Linked DNA regions of Homo sapiens: region 1 is linked to region 2. The links come from fine-mapping of genetic effects on gene expression. A gene starts in region 2. The other region holds a variant in brackets. All regions are shown on one strand. Distances are between the middles of the regions. Region 1 overlaps PLA2G4A (phospholipase A2 group IVA). Region 2 holds the start of PACERR (PTGS2 antisense NFKB1 complex-mediated expression regulator RNA).

The links. PIP is the estimated chance that this variant, and not a neighbour inherited with it, causes the effect.
Region 1: its variant is fine-mapped to the expression of PACERR in whole blood (INTERVAL, PIP 0.96).

The regions. Positions count from the first base shown.
Region 1 is chr1:186,977,175-186,980,096 of GRCh38, reverse strand. PLA2G4A (phospholipase A2 group IVA) reads right to left here. Exons shown (of 18, transcript NM_024420.3): 16 at 2,309-2,504; 17 at 625-782. Among named protein-coding and RNA genes, the nearest start is that of LINC01036, 110 kb to the left of the region's middle. The variant C/G (reference allele first, on the strand shown) is at 1,500.
Region 2 is chr1:186,679,467-186,682,388 of GRCh38, reverse strand. PACERR (PTGS2 antisense NFKB1 complex-mediated expression regulator RNA) reads right to left here and starts at 1,735. Exons shown (of 1, transcript NR_125801.1): 1 at 943-1,735. It overlaps PTGS2 (prostaglandin-endoperoxide synthase 2), which reads left to right and starts at 1,966. Exons shown (of 10, transcript NM_000963.4): 1 at 1,966-2,150. The coding sequence starts at 2,099.

The sequences.
Region 1 (2,922 bases), 300 kb before region 2:
AGGCGCCTGTAGTCCCAGCTACTCGGGAGGCTGAGGCAGGAGAATGGCGTGAACCTGGGAGGCGGAGCTTGCAGTGAGCCGACATTGCGCCACTGCACTCCAGCCTGGGCGACAGAGCGAGACTCCATCTCAAAAAAAAAAAAAAAAAAAAAAGGAAATGCTGTTACGTTTTGTGATGCTGCTCTCAAATTCACAAAAAGAAAATATGTAAAATCATAAATGTATTTATTAAAATTCATGTTATATTTTTGCAGATTAACTACACTTCTGGTTCCATTCACTTTCATACTCATATTTCCTTTACTCATATTTCCTTTTCATCACTTTTCTTCCTTACTTATAATTTGTTATATCATATAATAAATACATAGATACTTCGGGAAAGAAACTGAGTATTAACCAATCATTCAATAAAATAATAGCATAAAATGAGTTTCCTTATTTGTCAGTTTTGTAGGGTTCTTCTGAAGATTAGCAAAATATTTCATGAAAAGTAAAGTGGCATATTTTGGGTGGTGTCATTCATAACACTTATTTTTTTATTTTTAATTGAAAAGAGGTATTGGTGTATTTATACGGTATGGAAGTCATTTGACATAGTCAATGGCCATAGGAGATACTTACATCAATGTTGTTCAGAGTATTGAAGTGCATAAGATCATGTAGTCTTTTGAATGCTTGATTTGGATATTGAAAATTGAAGGTTGAAAATGGTGATTCTGGGTCATCAAAAATATCAAAGTCAGCGATTTCTTTCTCTTCCTCAGTTTCCCTTGGAACACCTAAATACCAGAAGAGTCACAAAGGGTGTTATTTTGAAAACTACAAAATATCTCTAAAACCCAAGGAATAAAACATACAGACATAAAGACAGCAGTGGGAGTCCCCACAGAGCCAGGTACTCTGTAGCATCTCTGACTTTTATCGTGTCTGTGTGTTCTGGCCAGATGACATCCAACTGCCAATATCTGACATCTGTGTGCCGGAGGGCTTTCTATCCTGCCCTGCAACTGTAGAAGCCTGCTTGACCCACTCACAGCAGGCTGGAAATTCTGTTAAATAACACTGTTCCCCAGGCAGTGGTCAACCAAAGACTCTAGGGAGTTAGAATCTAAATACTCCATTCCCCTGCCTTTTGGTGTGCGTGTGGGAAGCATGATTGTGGGACACAGGTCTATTCCATTTTGTAGTCTTTCCCAGCGGATCAAGTTCCCATTGTGGTAGCCGGCTTGCTAATGCAACTTTGTTGTCTGCCTTCCTTCCCTTTACCACTTCCCCATTTCCTTACTAATAAACTAGAGTGTTCCCCAGCTCATCTAAATAAACTATTTGCACTTGAGTCCTTTTCTCAGAATTAGTTTCTGGGAGAACCCAAACTAAAACATTATGTGGCTGTCTTTATGCCATGGAAATCCCCTACACATGCCAACTGCTCAGTGAGCCTCTCCTTGAGAATTCACAGTGATAGAAAATTCACTGGGTTTCATGTGCTCTAGTGT[C/G]TGATAACTAAAAATGTCAGATTTCCACCTTCTCCTATGCTGAACTATATGCTTCACAATAATCTTCACTCCTATCAATTCTTTCTTTGTCTTCCTGAGAAATCTAGAAAAACACCATTTTTCTCAGCATATTCCCATTACTCATCCTCCCTATTTTTTGTGTCTTTCCATTTATAAAATGGAAAACACATTTTCTGGTCCTAAAATATGGTTTTTGGAGCCTTAAGCACCCTGCATGTAAATCTTTAGATCTCCTTTGGTTAATCAACATTTTCCAGGATACACAAGAGTCGAGAGACCCCTCTGGATATGGTTAAAAAAATAAAACAAAACAAAAAAGACTATGCCTCAAACTTGATTCTTGTTTTCTGTGAAATACAACATGGCAAACTGAAACTGCTAGCCATTGTGTACTGCTAGATTACGTTAATCTTGTAGTCACGTAAAATTCCCAGAAATTTGCATGATTTTTCTGAAATAAGGGCTTTCTTACAAGGGTGATAGTCAAAATATTTGATTAAAAATCAATCAGAACAAACATAATTCAAAGTATTGAAGTAAAGTCCCAGAGATTTTTGCTAAACTGGTTGTTGACTTTGCAGTTTCTGAACTGTGAGCAAGTCAGGGGATCTTGGGGTAAGAAAGAGGAGAAGTACTTGAGGTCTCAGAATAGTATCTATTTATCAAGGTAAGGGAAGCATTCAATAGTGTAATAGCTGGTACAGCAGTGACAGAGTGAAACAGTTTAATGTCAGTTTCGTCCCCTACTTAATTTCTATTTTATGGAATACAGCTTACTCCCTACTTACCTGGAGCCCTGTACTTTCTGAAGTTGATGTTGGCCAGAACAAAGTGGATGATGGTTGGGCAATCTTTCTCCATATCAGGATTCTTGGGTTTAAAGACATAGCACTCCTTCAGCCCTTCCCGATCAAACACATAAGGATCAATCTTTGGAAAGGGGAGCTTGTTCATTTTAGCCCACTTTTCTGCAAGTAGAAGTTCCTATGGGAAAGATGGAAAGATGAATTTGGAAATTTTCAGTTTTCATTGATTCAGTTGGTCTGACCATAATTCAGTGTTCACTAGGTGTCTACTGTGTGCCAGCAATGTACTCCTTGCTAGGATGAATCACGACCCTGTTCTCAGGAAGTTCATTAATTTCAAAGAAATTGAAAACAAACTCACTATTGTTATGTTAATTCTTGGCACAAGGCTAGCTCCACAGCAGGCATTTGAAAAATTATTGATAAACTGAACTGAGCAAAATTATGTTGAAGAAGCTGCTAGAGAAAAAAAATTATGGGTTCAGAGAATTTATAACCATGTGAAAGTTTTTTTAACCCTTAGGAGTAAAAAAGGAATCTGATGATGCAGAGAAGAATCCTGTTACTGGATTTTTACCTGTATCATCTCCACCAAA
Region 2 (2,922 bases):
AATCTAAATATAATTATTCCTTATGCCCTGTTTTTCCCTCACTTTTGTATCCAAATCTCTTTTCAGACAACAGAACAATTAATGTCTGATAAGGAAGACAATGATGATGATCACTTCAAAATGAATTCAGGATTGTAATGTAAAATTTTAGTACTCTCTCACAGTATGGATTCTAACATGGCTTCTAACCCAAACTAACATTAGTAGCTCTAACTATAAACTTCAAATTTCAGTAGATGCAACCTACTCCTTTAAAATGAAACAGAAGATTGAAATTATTAAATTATCAAAAAGAAAATGATCCACGCTCTTAGTTGAAATTTCATGTAAGATTCCATGCAATAAATAGGAGTGCCATAAATGGAATGATGAAATATGACTAGAGGAGGAGAAAGGCTTCCTAGATGAGATGGAATTTTAGTCATCCGTGTCTCATGAAGAATCAGATGTGTACACTAAGCAAAACAGTTAAAAAAAAAACCTCCAAGTGAGTCTCTTATTTATTTTTTTCTTATAAGACTTCTACAAATTGAGGTACCTGGTGTAGTTTTATTTCAGGTTTTATGCTGTCATTTTCCTGTAATGCTAAGGACTTAGGACATAACTGAATTTTCTATTTTCCACTTCTTTTCTGGTGTGTGTGTATATATATATGTATATATACACACACACATATACATATATATATTTTTTAGTATCTCACCCTCACATGCTCCTCCCTGAGCACTACCCATGATAGATGTTAAACAAAAGCAAAGATGAAATTCCAACTGTCAAAATCTCCCTTCCATCTAATTAATTCCTCATCCAACTATGTTCCAAAACGAGAATAGAAAATTAGCCCCAATAAGCCCAGGCAACTGAAAAGTAAATGCTATGTTGTACTTTGATCCATGGTCACAACTCATAATCTTGGAAAAGTGGACAGAAAAGACAAAAGAGTGAACTTTAAAACTCGAATTTATTTTACCAGTATCTCCTATGAAGGGCTAGTAACCAAAATAATCCACGCATCAGGGAGAGAAATGCCTTAAGGCATACGTTTTGGACATTTAGCGTCCCTGCAAATTCTGGCCATCGCCGCTTCCTTTGTCCATCAGAAGGCAGGAAACTTTATATTGGTGACCCGTGGAGCTCACATTAACTATTTACAGGGTAACTGCTTAGGACCAGTATTATGAGGAGAATTTACCTTTCCCGCCTCTCTTTCCAAGAAACAAGGAGGGGGTGAAGGTACGGAGAACAGTATTTCTTCTGTTGAAAGCAACTTAGCTACAAAGATAAATTACAGCTATGTACACTGAAGGTAGCTATTTCATTCCACAAAATAAGAGTTTTTTAAAAAGCTATGTATGTATGTGCTGCATATAGAGCAGATATACAGCCTATTAAGCGTCGTCACTAAAACATAAAACATGTCAGCCTTTCTTAACCTTACTCGCCCCAGTCTGTCCCGACGTGACTTCCTCGACCCTCTAAAGACGTACAGACCAGACACGGCGGCGGCGGCGGGAGAGGGGATTCCCTGCGCCCCCGGACCTCAGGGCCGCTCAGATTCCTGGAGAGGAAGCCAAGTGTCCTTCTGCCCTCCCCCGGTATCCCATCCAAGGCGATCAGTCCAGAACTGGCTCTCGGAAGCGCTCGGGCAAAGACTGCGAAGAAGAAAAGACATCTGGCGGAAACCTGTGCGCCTGGGGCGGTGGAACTCGGGGAGGAGAGGGAGGGATCAGACAGGAGAGTGGGGACTACCCCCTCTGCTCCCAAATTGGGGCAGCTTCCTGGGTTTCCGATTTTCTCATTTCCGTGGGTAAAAAACCCTGCCCCCACCGGGCTTACGCAATTTTTTTAAGGGGAGAGGAGGGAAAAATTTGTGGGGGGTACGAAAAGGCGGAAAGAAACAGTCATTTCGTCACATGGGCTTGGTTTTCAGTCTTATAAAAAGGAAGGTTCTCTCGGTTAGCGACCAATTGTCATACGACTTGCAGTGAGCGTCAGGAGCACGTCCAGGAACTCCTCAGCAGCGCCTCCTTCAGCTCCACAGCCAGACGCCCTCAGACAGCAAAGCCTACCCCCGCGCCGCGCCCTGCCCGCCGCTGCGATGCTCGCCCGCGCCCTGCTGCTGTGCGCGGTCCTGGCGCTCAGCCATACAGGTGAGTACCTGGCGCCGCGCACCGGGGACTCCGGTTCCACGCACCCGGGCAGAGTTTCCGCTCTGACCTCCTGGGTCTATCCCAGTACTCCGACTTCTCTCCGAATAGAGAAGCTACGTGACTTGGGAAAGAGCTTGGACCGCTAGAGTTCGAAAGAACTCCGTGGATATTCCAGCTTTCCCACAAGCACTGATCATTATGAGCCAGTTACTTAACCGATCTGAGACACTCTCACCTCCTAAATAGGGATAGATGATACTAATTTGCAGGTTGTCATTATGATAAGACAGGATCTGATCAATATATGTGAATTGTTTATATTTGGAACCTTTTTATTGAGTGGAAGAAGTTGTTTTAAATATTCTAGTCAGTTCTTTCCTGCTCCCAGGAAAGCCCGGATTATGTTTTAAGATAAGCAAAATGTCTTAAAAGTAAGCTGTTTTACTTTGAATTTTTCCCTAAATGTTGATTAGTGTACTAGATCCATTTTAATTTGGAAAGTGAAGTGCTACTTATTTGAACTTCTTAAAAATGCTAATTTTAACATCTAAAGAGTTAACTAAGAAAAGCTTAGTAACATGATGTACCAAGTTGAATATGCTGTTATCCTTATTTAGAATAGAAAATTGGTATTTCTACGTTTTATCCATTCTAAGGCAGGTTAAAAAATTGTATTTCCATGACTACCTATATATTTCTTGAATTTATTATTGTAAAGTTGATTCATAGTCAAACAATTAAATGTTTAAATTAAGATTAAGACACTAGAGAA